Regions from separate parts of the Homo sapiens genome. Here region 2 is linked to region 1. Evidence: fine-mapped expression QTL. A gene starts in region 1. The other region holds a variant in brackets. All regions are shown on one strand. Distances are from middle to middle. Region 1 holds the start of GAS8-AS1 (GAS8 antisense RNA 1). Region 2 overlaps CDH15 (cadherin 15).

Region 1 (4,503 bases):
GGTTCCAGAACCTTCTCTGCCAAATGTTCCTGGGAGCAAATCAGAGCCAGCCAAGAAGGGGAAGCTGTTAGAGTCTCTCTTACCCCATTATTTCCACCAAAGGCACCGAAAAAGAAAGGGAAGAAAGGCAAAGCCAAAGGCACCCCGATTGTCGATGGGCTCGCTCCAGAGGACATGAGCAAGGAGCAGGTGAGCAGAGCGGGCTGTGGCCCAGTCCCCGGGTGGGCGTGGGCGGGCACCACGCAGGGTGCCTACGCCGAGTGTCCATCTTGCCATGTGGATCCACCCTTCTGTCCAAGCCAGAACACGCCCCCCGCGTGGCCCATAATTCCCATCAGCGGCAAAGCTTTCGGCTGCACCATGTCTTTTCAGAAAGGTAGTGCAGCCTGTGAAAGAGCTTTGTAACAGGGTGGTAGGAGTGTGGAAGGACATGCTTTTCTGATCTAAAAGCTGTTTTTAATTTCGTGTATTCTCTTTCAATCTTACCCTTTTTTTGCACCTGATGTGTATAGACTTATCGTAGAACACACATGTAGCATTCTCCTTTATTTTATTCACCATTAAACATTATGTCAAAAAGGAAGTTTTTGAAAGAAGGATGATTTACTTCAAATCACATCTGAATCTGATTAATCGTTCATTTTTTTTTTTTTTTTTTTTTTTTTTTTTGAGACGGAGTCTCACTCTGTCGCCCAGGCTGGAGTGCAGTGGCGCGATCTCGGCTCACTGTGAGCTCCACCTCCCGGGTTCACACCATTCTCCTGCCTCAGCCTCCCGAGTAGCTGGGACTACAGGCACCTGCCACCACGCCTGGCTAATTTTTTTTTTGTATTTTTAGTAGAGACGGGGTTTCACCGTGTTAGCCAGGATGGTCTCGATCTCCTGACCTCGTGATCCACTCGCCTCGGCCTCCCAAAGTGCTGGGATTACAGGCATGAGCCACCACGCCTGGCCAGTCATTCATTGTTTTTGATAAAAGTCCCAACAAGGAGTAACAGCATCAGGGCTGCCTTTTTCTTGTTGCTTATTTTGGGGAGGAGGTGATGTTTTTATAGTTTCTTTGTAGGAGTTAGTTTAAGTCTCTTCTTCATTTGGATGTAGTTAAGGGCTACAGAACATAATTACATAATTACAATTTTACCTAAAAGGCTCCTGGAGACGGCAGTGTGTGGCAAGCACGGTGCACCCTCTGGCCTCTGCCCTCATGGACGACTGCCTGTGAGCACCTGACATGGGACATGAGGGCTGTGTCAACTCTGTGTTATTGTTAATAAATCTTACCTTCTTTTGATAGTTGTAAGATAAAAAATCAATACGAAGGAGACTGAAAGAGTCTCATGACCTGAAGTTGGAGCTAGGCAGAGGTCCTTGAACAATGGTAAAGAATGGCTTTATTTTACATGCAGGCAAACCATTGGCAGTTTAAGCCAGTGGCTAAGCAGAGAGGTGATGGGGTCAGGTTTGTGTTCTGGAAAGATGTCTGGAGCTGCTGGATGGAGAATGGATTGAACACTGCGTTGTCCCAGCATGTGAGCTGCTGCCCGTCTCCCTGTCCGCTTCCCATTCCTGTGGAGACAGGCCTTGTGGGGCAGTGGCCATGGAGCCTACGGGGCAGCCTACGGGGCAGGCTACGGGGCAGCTTACGGGGCAGGCTATGGGGCAGCCTACGGGGCAGGCTACGGGGCAGGCCCTTGCACTGCACATCGCACGTTGAGCCACAGACTCAGAAGGCTTCTTCAGGGTCCAGGCAGGTGGGGAGGGATGGGGGTGACCTGGAGACTCCTGCCCCGCAGCAGAGGACAGTTTCATCTGTTCACTGGGGAGTGCCTTGTGGGCCTAGGAGTTCAGTGCTGTTTTTTTCTGATTTTCCAAGAGAAGCTGGAAATCTGGATATTTATAAGAAATCTGAATATTGAGTGATGGCAAAATCTCAACACCATGTGAGCCAAACAGACCAGTCAGGAGCCCTGGTTCAGGCTCTGCCCAGGAGCCTCTAAAGGTCTGTGACGTGAAGACATTTGTCGTTGTGCCGAGGCACTGGTTGGATTCGGGGGTGCGTGTCTCCCTCATGTCTGCCCGGCATCCTCGGCTCAGAACCCCTCCTGCTGCTCCTTCTTGTTTGCTCGTTGTCTTGTCTTCTTTTGAGGTGAGAAATGTGTTTTCCCTGTGGGGAATGTGGTGTTGAGAAAGAAAAAGGCTCACAGTAAGTGGCCTGGGGCTGTGCCCGAAAAGTAACTGATTCTGACGGAATCTCGCTGTGTGGCCCAGGCTGGAGTGCGGTGGCGCGACCTCGGCTCACTGCAAGCTCCACCTCCTGGGTTCACACCATCCTGCTGCTTCAGGCTGCCCAGTAGCTGGGACTGCAGGTGCCTGCCATCACGCCCGGCTAATTTTTTTGTATTTTTAGTAGAGACGAGGTTTCACCGTGTTAGCCAGGATGGCCTTGATCTCCTGACCTCATGATCTGCCTGTCTCTGCCTCCCAAAGTGCTGGGATTACAGGTGTGAGCCACCGCGCCTGGCAGTAACTGATTCTTAAGGGAAATGAGCTCCCGAGAAAGCTGGAAGCCTGTCCTACATTTTTTTTTAACCTATTTGCAGATTCGCAATTGAACCCTCTTGAGATTTTAGAGTCTACTGGTTTTGTATATTTTTTGCTTAACATTATATCTTCAAAGGTGAATTTTTTTTCATTTAGCATTATGATATGAATTTGTTTAAATGCTGCTACATCATTTGCATATTTTTTTTGGGTTAATGTGATATTTCTCCTAGTTGATATACTCTAATTTTTCAACCATTTCCATATTTATTTATTTATTGTTTAGAGACAGGGTCCTGCTCTGTCACCCAGGTGGAGTGCAGTGGTGTGATCACGGCTCACGGCAGCCTTGACCTCCCAGGTCCAAACGATCCTCCTACCTCAGTCTTCTGAGTAGCTGGGACTATAGGCATGTGCCACCACTCCTGGCTAATTTTTTTTTTTTTTTTTTTTTGTAGAGACAGGGTTTTGCCATGTTGCCTAGGCTGTTCAACTCTGGGGCTCAAAAGATCCTCCCAAAGTGGTGGGAGCCACCATGCCTGGCTGTTTGTGTATTTTTTGAGACAGATTCTCACTCTGTCACCCAGGCTGGAGTGTAGTGGCATGATCATAACTAACCGCAGCCTCAACCCCCTGAGCTTGAGTGACCCTCCCACCTCAGCTCTCCCAGTAGCTGAGACTATAGGTGCGTGCCATCATGCCTAGTTAATGAAAAAAAGTTTTTGCAGAGATGGGGTCTTGCTATGTTGCCCAAGCTGGTCTTCAGCTCCTGGGCGCGAGGGATCCTTCAACCTCAGCCTCCCAGAGTGCTGGGGTTGCAGGCGAGAGCCACCGCGCCTCGCTTATTTCCCTGTTTAAACTGGTCTTAGGTTATTTCCTTTTTGATATTTTTGCTGTTGTAATAATGGTGTGGGTAATATCTTTGAGCAAGATGCTCTTATATTTCTTTTGAGAAATTTTTTAGGCATCAATTCTCAGGAATGGATGAAAGGATCTAGTTATTTTATGATTATTGGCCAAATTGAAGAGAATTCTGCCACCTGCTGAATGCATTCTGTCTCCGGAGCTTCCTAGCCTTATATTTTAACTTTTTACATTTAGCTGTTTATTTTTAGGTGAAGTTGAGTCCTCCCTCTTTCTTCCTTGCCTTTCGCCGGCCACACGCCCCGTTGCCGTGCATGGGCCCCTGCTCAGTGCCTCACCTGACCCACTGCACCTGGCCAGGTGGAGGAGCATGTCAGCCGCATCCGGGAGGAGCTGGACCGCGAGCGGGAGGAACGAAACTACTTCCAGCTGGAGCGGGACAAGATCCACACCTTCTGGGAGATCACACGGAGGCAGCTGGAGGAGAAGAAGGCTGAGCTGCGGAACAAAGACCGGGAGATGGAAGAAGCCGAGGAGAGGCACCAGGTGGAGATCAAGGTGAGTGGGGCCGGCCTGCACGTGCTAACCTGGTCACCACAGAGCCCCAGAGGAGCTGGATCCAGTGAGGGTGCAGGTGGGACATTTTCTGTTCTTGGCTTTGGGAGTCACAGCCTTAAAGGTGTTTTTTATAAAAGCCTGAGGGAGAGACCCTGCAGGTCCTGAGGGTTTAAAATGCTGCCTCCACAACATGGAAGGAATATGGGCTCTGGGGGCAGACTGGCCTGTTTGCAACTCAGCTCTGCCACTTAATACCCCATGAGCTGGGGATGCACCTCACCTCCCAGCCTTGGTGTCCTGCTCTGTGCCTCAAGTGTACAGGTTTGCATAGGTGAACAGGCATGTGTAGCTGTGTAAAGGTGAGGCATGCAAGTGAGCAGGTGGATGCAAGTGAGCATGTGTGTGCAGGTGAGGAGGCGTGGCCAGGTGAGGAGGTATGTGCAGGTGAGGTGTGGGGAGGTGAGCACGTGGGGCAGGTATGTGCAGGTGAGCAGGTAGGTGCAAGTGACCAGGTGTCTACAGGTATGTACAGGTGAGGAG
Region 2 (4,223 bases), 830 kb before region 1:
CCACCCGAGGGATGCCTGGCTCTGTTCCACCTCCTCGCCCACAGGACGCCTACGACATCAGCCAGCTGCGTCACCCGACAGCGCTGAGCCTGCCTCTGGGACCGCCGCCACTTCGCAGAGATGCCCCGCAGGGCCGCCTGCACCCCCAGCCACCCCGAGTGCTGCCCACCAGCCCCCTGGACATCGCCGACTTCATCAATGATGTAGGTGCTCCTGGGGACACCCCAGTACACACAGGCACGCACAGGTGCACACACACATGCACATGTACACACCTGCACATGCATGCAAGAACCGGCGCCTGCATGCACTTATGGGCCGTCCCAGAGCACCGCAGAGGAAGATGGTGTGCGGGCGGGAGTGTGGAAGCCCCGCTGCCACCGTCCAAACTGGGCCCTCAGCCTCCACCCGCGACGCGGGTCTTTGCACAGATGGAGTGGCGATGGCCACAGACCCATCCACTGCCCCGTGTCCACCATGGAGGGGGTGGGGGAGCCCCGGGAGCATCCCCTGGGCTTCGGTGGCTGTCAGCGGAATCAGGGCCTCCATAGAAGACCCTCTGGACACAGCGTTAATGATTCCCTGCCATCCACAGGATGAATGTGCACACGGGGAATCTGGGGTGTGGGGCGCACAGGGAACCCTCCTCTGTGCCTGTCTGCACCTGTAGCACCTGGCTCAGAGAAAGCCCCCAGCCAAGGTGTACACCCCCGGTTAGGAGCGTGTGTCCCCACGAGCTGAGAGGACAGACATGCAGACAGAGCCTCCGAAAGGCAGACGGGCCGTTCTGCGGATGGGGGTGTCCAGGAGGCTCGGGTTCTGCCTTGAGTGGACAAGGGCCACGGGGAGGAAGAGACCAGGGTGAGGGGGAGCAACCCCTTCCCACCTTGCTGGGGCAGGGCAGAGCCCCGGGGGACGGGCTGGCCGCTGGCCTAATACTGAGGAAGGGGGTAGTCCGTGGCACCCTCTTCACAACCCTGCTGCTGTGCCCTCAGGACGCTTTGCCTCCCCTCAGACCTCGCCCCCGGACGTGGGCAGCTTCCCCTTCCTGAGCCCGTGCCTTGAGCTGACTTTGCCCTGGGCTGTGGCCACGGCGGTGGGGCACCCGCTGGCCCCTCCATGTGTCTTGAGCTCTCCGGGCCTCTTTATAGGGCTTGGAGGCTGCAGATAGTGACCCCAGTGTGCCGCCTTACGACACAGCCCTCATCTATGACTACGAGGGTGACGGCTCGGTGGCGGGGACGCTGAGCTCCATCCTGTCCAGCCAGGGCGATGAGGACCAGGACTACGACTACCTCAGAGACTGGGGGCCCCGCTTCGCCCGGCTGGCAGACATGTATGGGCACCCGTGCGGGTTGGAGTACGGGGCCAGATGGGACCACCAGGCCAGGGAGGGTCTTTCTCCTGGGGCACTGCTACCCAGACACAGAGGCCGGACAGCCTGACCCTGGGGCGCAACTGGACATGCCACTCCCCGGCCTCGTGGCAGTGATGGCCCCTGCAGAGGCAGCCTGAGGTCACCGGGCCCGACCCCCCTGGGCCTGGGGCAGCCTCCTTCCTGTAGGCGAGGGCCCAAGTCTGGGGGCAGAACCTGAGTGTGGATGGGGCGGCCAGGAAGAGGCCCCTTCCTGCCGGGGTGGGAAGAGTTTCTCTCCATCGGCCCCATGCGGGTCACCTCCCTAGTCCCACCTTTGCCTCCTACCAGTGAACCTCATCTTTGTATGAAAGACAGCAACCTCCTGGGTAAATCTGAATGAAAAACGTGCTAGTCTCTTTCATGCAGGACGGGCGCCCACTGCCACACTGACCATGAGGGGGATGGGGCCAGTGAGGCCTGGCCTGGCAGGGACCTGAGGGCCAGGCCCCCATACCACCCTGCTTGGCTGGGGCAGGAGGCGGCCGGGGGCTGCCACTACCTGGACAGGGGCTATGGAGCAGCCGCTGACACCCTGGCTCCTTGCTGGTGAGCCCAGAGGTGGGGAGCAGGCACAGGTGAGACCCTTCCAGGCCCCAGGTGTGGCCTGAGGGAAGAACCAGGGAGGA[C/T]GCCAAGTTCCACAGAAGCCTTTATCCTCCACACCTACTGGGTGTGGCTGGGGGGAGACCCAGGGCCTCCCAGTGCCTGGGGCCTGGCTGGAGACACCTTCACGCTGTCCCCACGGCTCCACCTGCACTGAGACACGGGCTTCTGAGAGGAATGTGTCTGCCCTGGACCAGACGTCTGGGGTACTCAGCCATGCCCCAGGCCTTGACTTTGGTCCCATCCTGGCTCCCAGGGCCACCAGGCAGGACTAGTGCTGCTCGGGGGTGTGGCCGGCCCAGTAGGAGTTGGAGGGCGGCAGCAGAGGCAGGTGGTCCTGGCGGGGGCGGCCCCGCAGGAGTGGGGAGCGGCGCAGGCGGTCGGCGTCCTGCAGTGACTGGGGCAGCCCCCGGCTTCGGCTCTCAGGCAGCAGCAGGACACACAGCAGGGCAAGGACAGCAAGGGAGGCGAAGACGACTTGTTGCAGGAAGAAGCCCTGCCGGCCGTGCAGGGTGTCCAGGGGGCCGGCTGCCTGGCCCAGGAACCCGGCCCCCAGCACCAGGCCCAGCCCGGCCCCCCTGTGGGACAGAGTGTGTTGGGGGCAGCCAGCCTCCTGGCCCAGGAACCCGGCCCCCAGCACCAGGCCCAGCCCGGCCCCCCTGTGGGACAGAGTGTGTTGGGGGCAGCCAGCCTCCTGGCCCAGGAACCCGGCCCCCAGCACCAGGCCCAGGCCGGCCCCTCTGTGGGAGAGAGTGCGTTGGGGGCAGCTGGTGGGGCAACAGATTGGGGGACACACATGTGACTCCAGAGTGAGCAGGGGGAAGGCCCGGCCTCCGCACAGCCTAAGGTTTGCTGGCTGAGGATAATTTGAAAAATTGTTTTGGAAAAACCTCCTTCCTCTCCTGGAGCACTTTTTGCTCTGTTCAAGACTGGAAAGTGGCCGGGCACAGTGGCTCATGCCTGTAATCCCAGCACTTTGGGAGGCCAAGGCAGGCGGATCATGAGGTCAGGAGATCGAGACCATCCTGGCTATCATGGTGAAACCCTGTCTTTACTAAAAATACAAAAATTAGTTGTGCGTGGTGGTGGGTGCCTGTAATCCCAGCTACTCAGGAGGCTGAGGCAGGAGAATCGCTTGAACCAGAGAGTTGGAGGCTGCAGTGAGCTGAGATCACACCACTGCACTCCAGCCTGGTGACAGAGCGAGACTCCATCTCAAAAAAAAAAAAAAAGAAGAAGAAGAAGATCGAAAAGTGATGCTTTCCCCGAGAATTCTGCCATTTCTGGAGGCCTCCTCATCTCTGCCCCCACCCCGCACTCCTGGCTTCAGGCCTGCGTGGCCTTCCCTCCCCTTCCCAGTTCCTGAGCCGTCTGCCCAGAGCCTTCTGTGAGCAGTGGCCCCCACCATCCAGGAGCAGGGCAGTGCTTTACCCCGAGTCCTTACTGGATGGAGGAATCACAGGCAGGAACCTGGGTGGGGTATGGGGACAGGGCCTCCTGTCCACCTGGCCCCTCCTCCCCATGAGAGGCCCTGGACCCTGCTGTGTGGCCGGGCAACCCTGAAGCTCACCTGATCACCGTGGGGAAGACCTCGGCCGCGAAGAGGCTGCTGAGTGCGGACACAGCCCGGGAGGCCAGGAGCCCCAGGACAGAGAGGAACAGCACAGTCCAGCCTGGCAGATCTGGGGACAAAGAACAGGGGTTCCCAGGCTCTCTCCCCAGGCCTTCCACCCTGGCCACTCAGGGCCCTTCCCCAGAGAACCACACCACTGTCTGGGGACCCACTTTCCAAGCCTCCTTTTCCAGCCCCCCTGAGAAACCTGGAGGGGGAACCTGTCCTCTGCAGCCTGATTCCAGCCTGGCTTGGATTCTAAGGATGTTAGAATCCTGACCCCGAGCCGCAGCCACACCGACCACCTCCACTCGGGCCCACGCTCAGCTACTGCTGTGCTGTCCACTGTCTTTGCAATTTCGAGAACCGTCCTAAAATCTCGAATACGTTGGAAGCAAGGCCTGCATTTCATTTTGCACCTAGCTCCACACACCATGTGGCTGGCCCTGAGTATATGGGCCCTCCCACACCAGTCCATGGCCGGCCTCGGCCACCTGGAACTCTGGGCAGAGCTTTTACCCAGCCCGGCCTCTTGACCTCTCATGCCTGTGCTGCACTCTGTGGCTGGGGCAGGTGTTTTAGGCTCAGACAGTT

The links. PIP is the estimated chance that this variant, and not a neighbour inherited with it, causes the effect.
Region 2: its variant is the best candidate, but not a certain one, in a credible set for the expression of GAS8-AS1 in gastroesophageal junction (GTEx, PIP 0.70).

Annotation. Positions count from the first base shown.
Region 1 is chr16:90,027,534-90,032,036 of GRCh38, forward strand. GAS8-AS1 (GAS8 antisense RNA 1) reads right to left here and starts at 2,368. Exons shown (of 1, transcript NR_122031.2): 1 at 1,366-2,368. DRC4 (dynein regulatory complex subunit 4) reads left to right here. Exons shown (of 11, transcript NM_001481.3): 2 at 103-189; 3 at 3,766-3,963.
Region 2 is chr16:89,193,711-89,197,933 of GRCh38, forward strand. It overlaps CDH15 (cadherin 15), which reads left to right. Exons shown (of 14, transcript NM_004933.3): 13 at 45-203; 14 at 1,152-1,782. The coding sequence ends at 1,445. It overlaps SLC22A31 (solute carrier family 22 member 31), which reads right to left. Exons shown (of 9, transcript NM_001384763.1): 8 at 3,588-3,699; 9 at 2,051-2,595. The coding sequence ends at 2,289. Among named protein-coding and RNA genes, the nearest start is that of SLC22A31, 4.7 kb to the right of the region's middle. RefSeq lists an enhancer at 63-728. The variant C/T (reference allele first, on the strand shown) is at 2,044.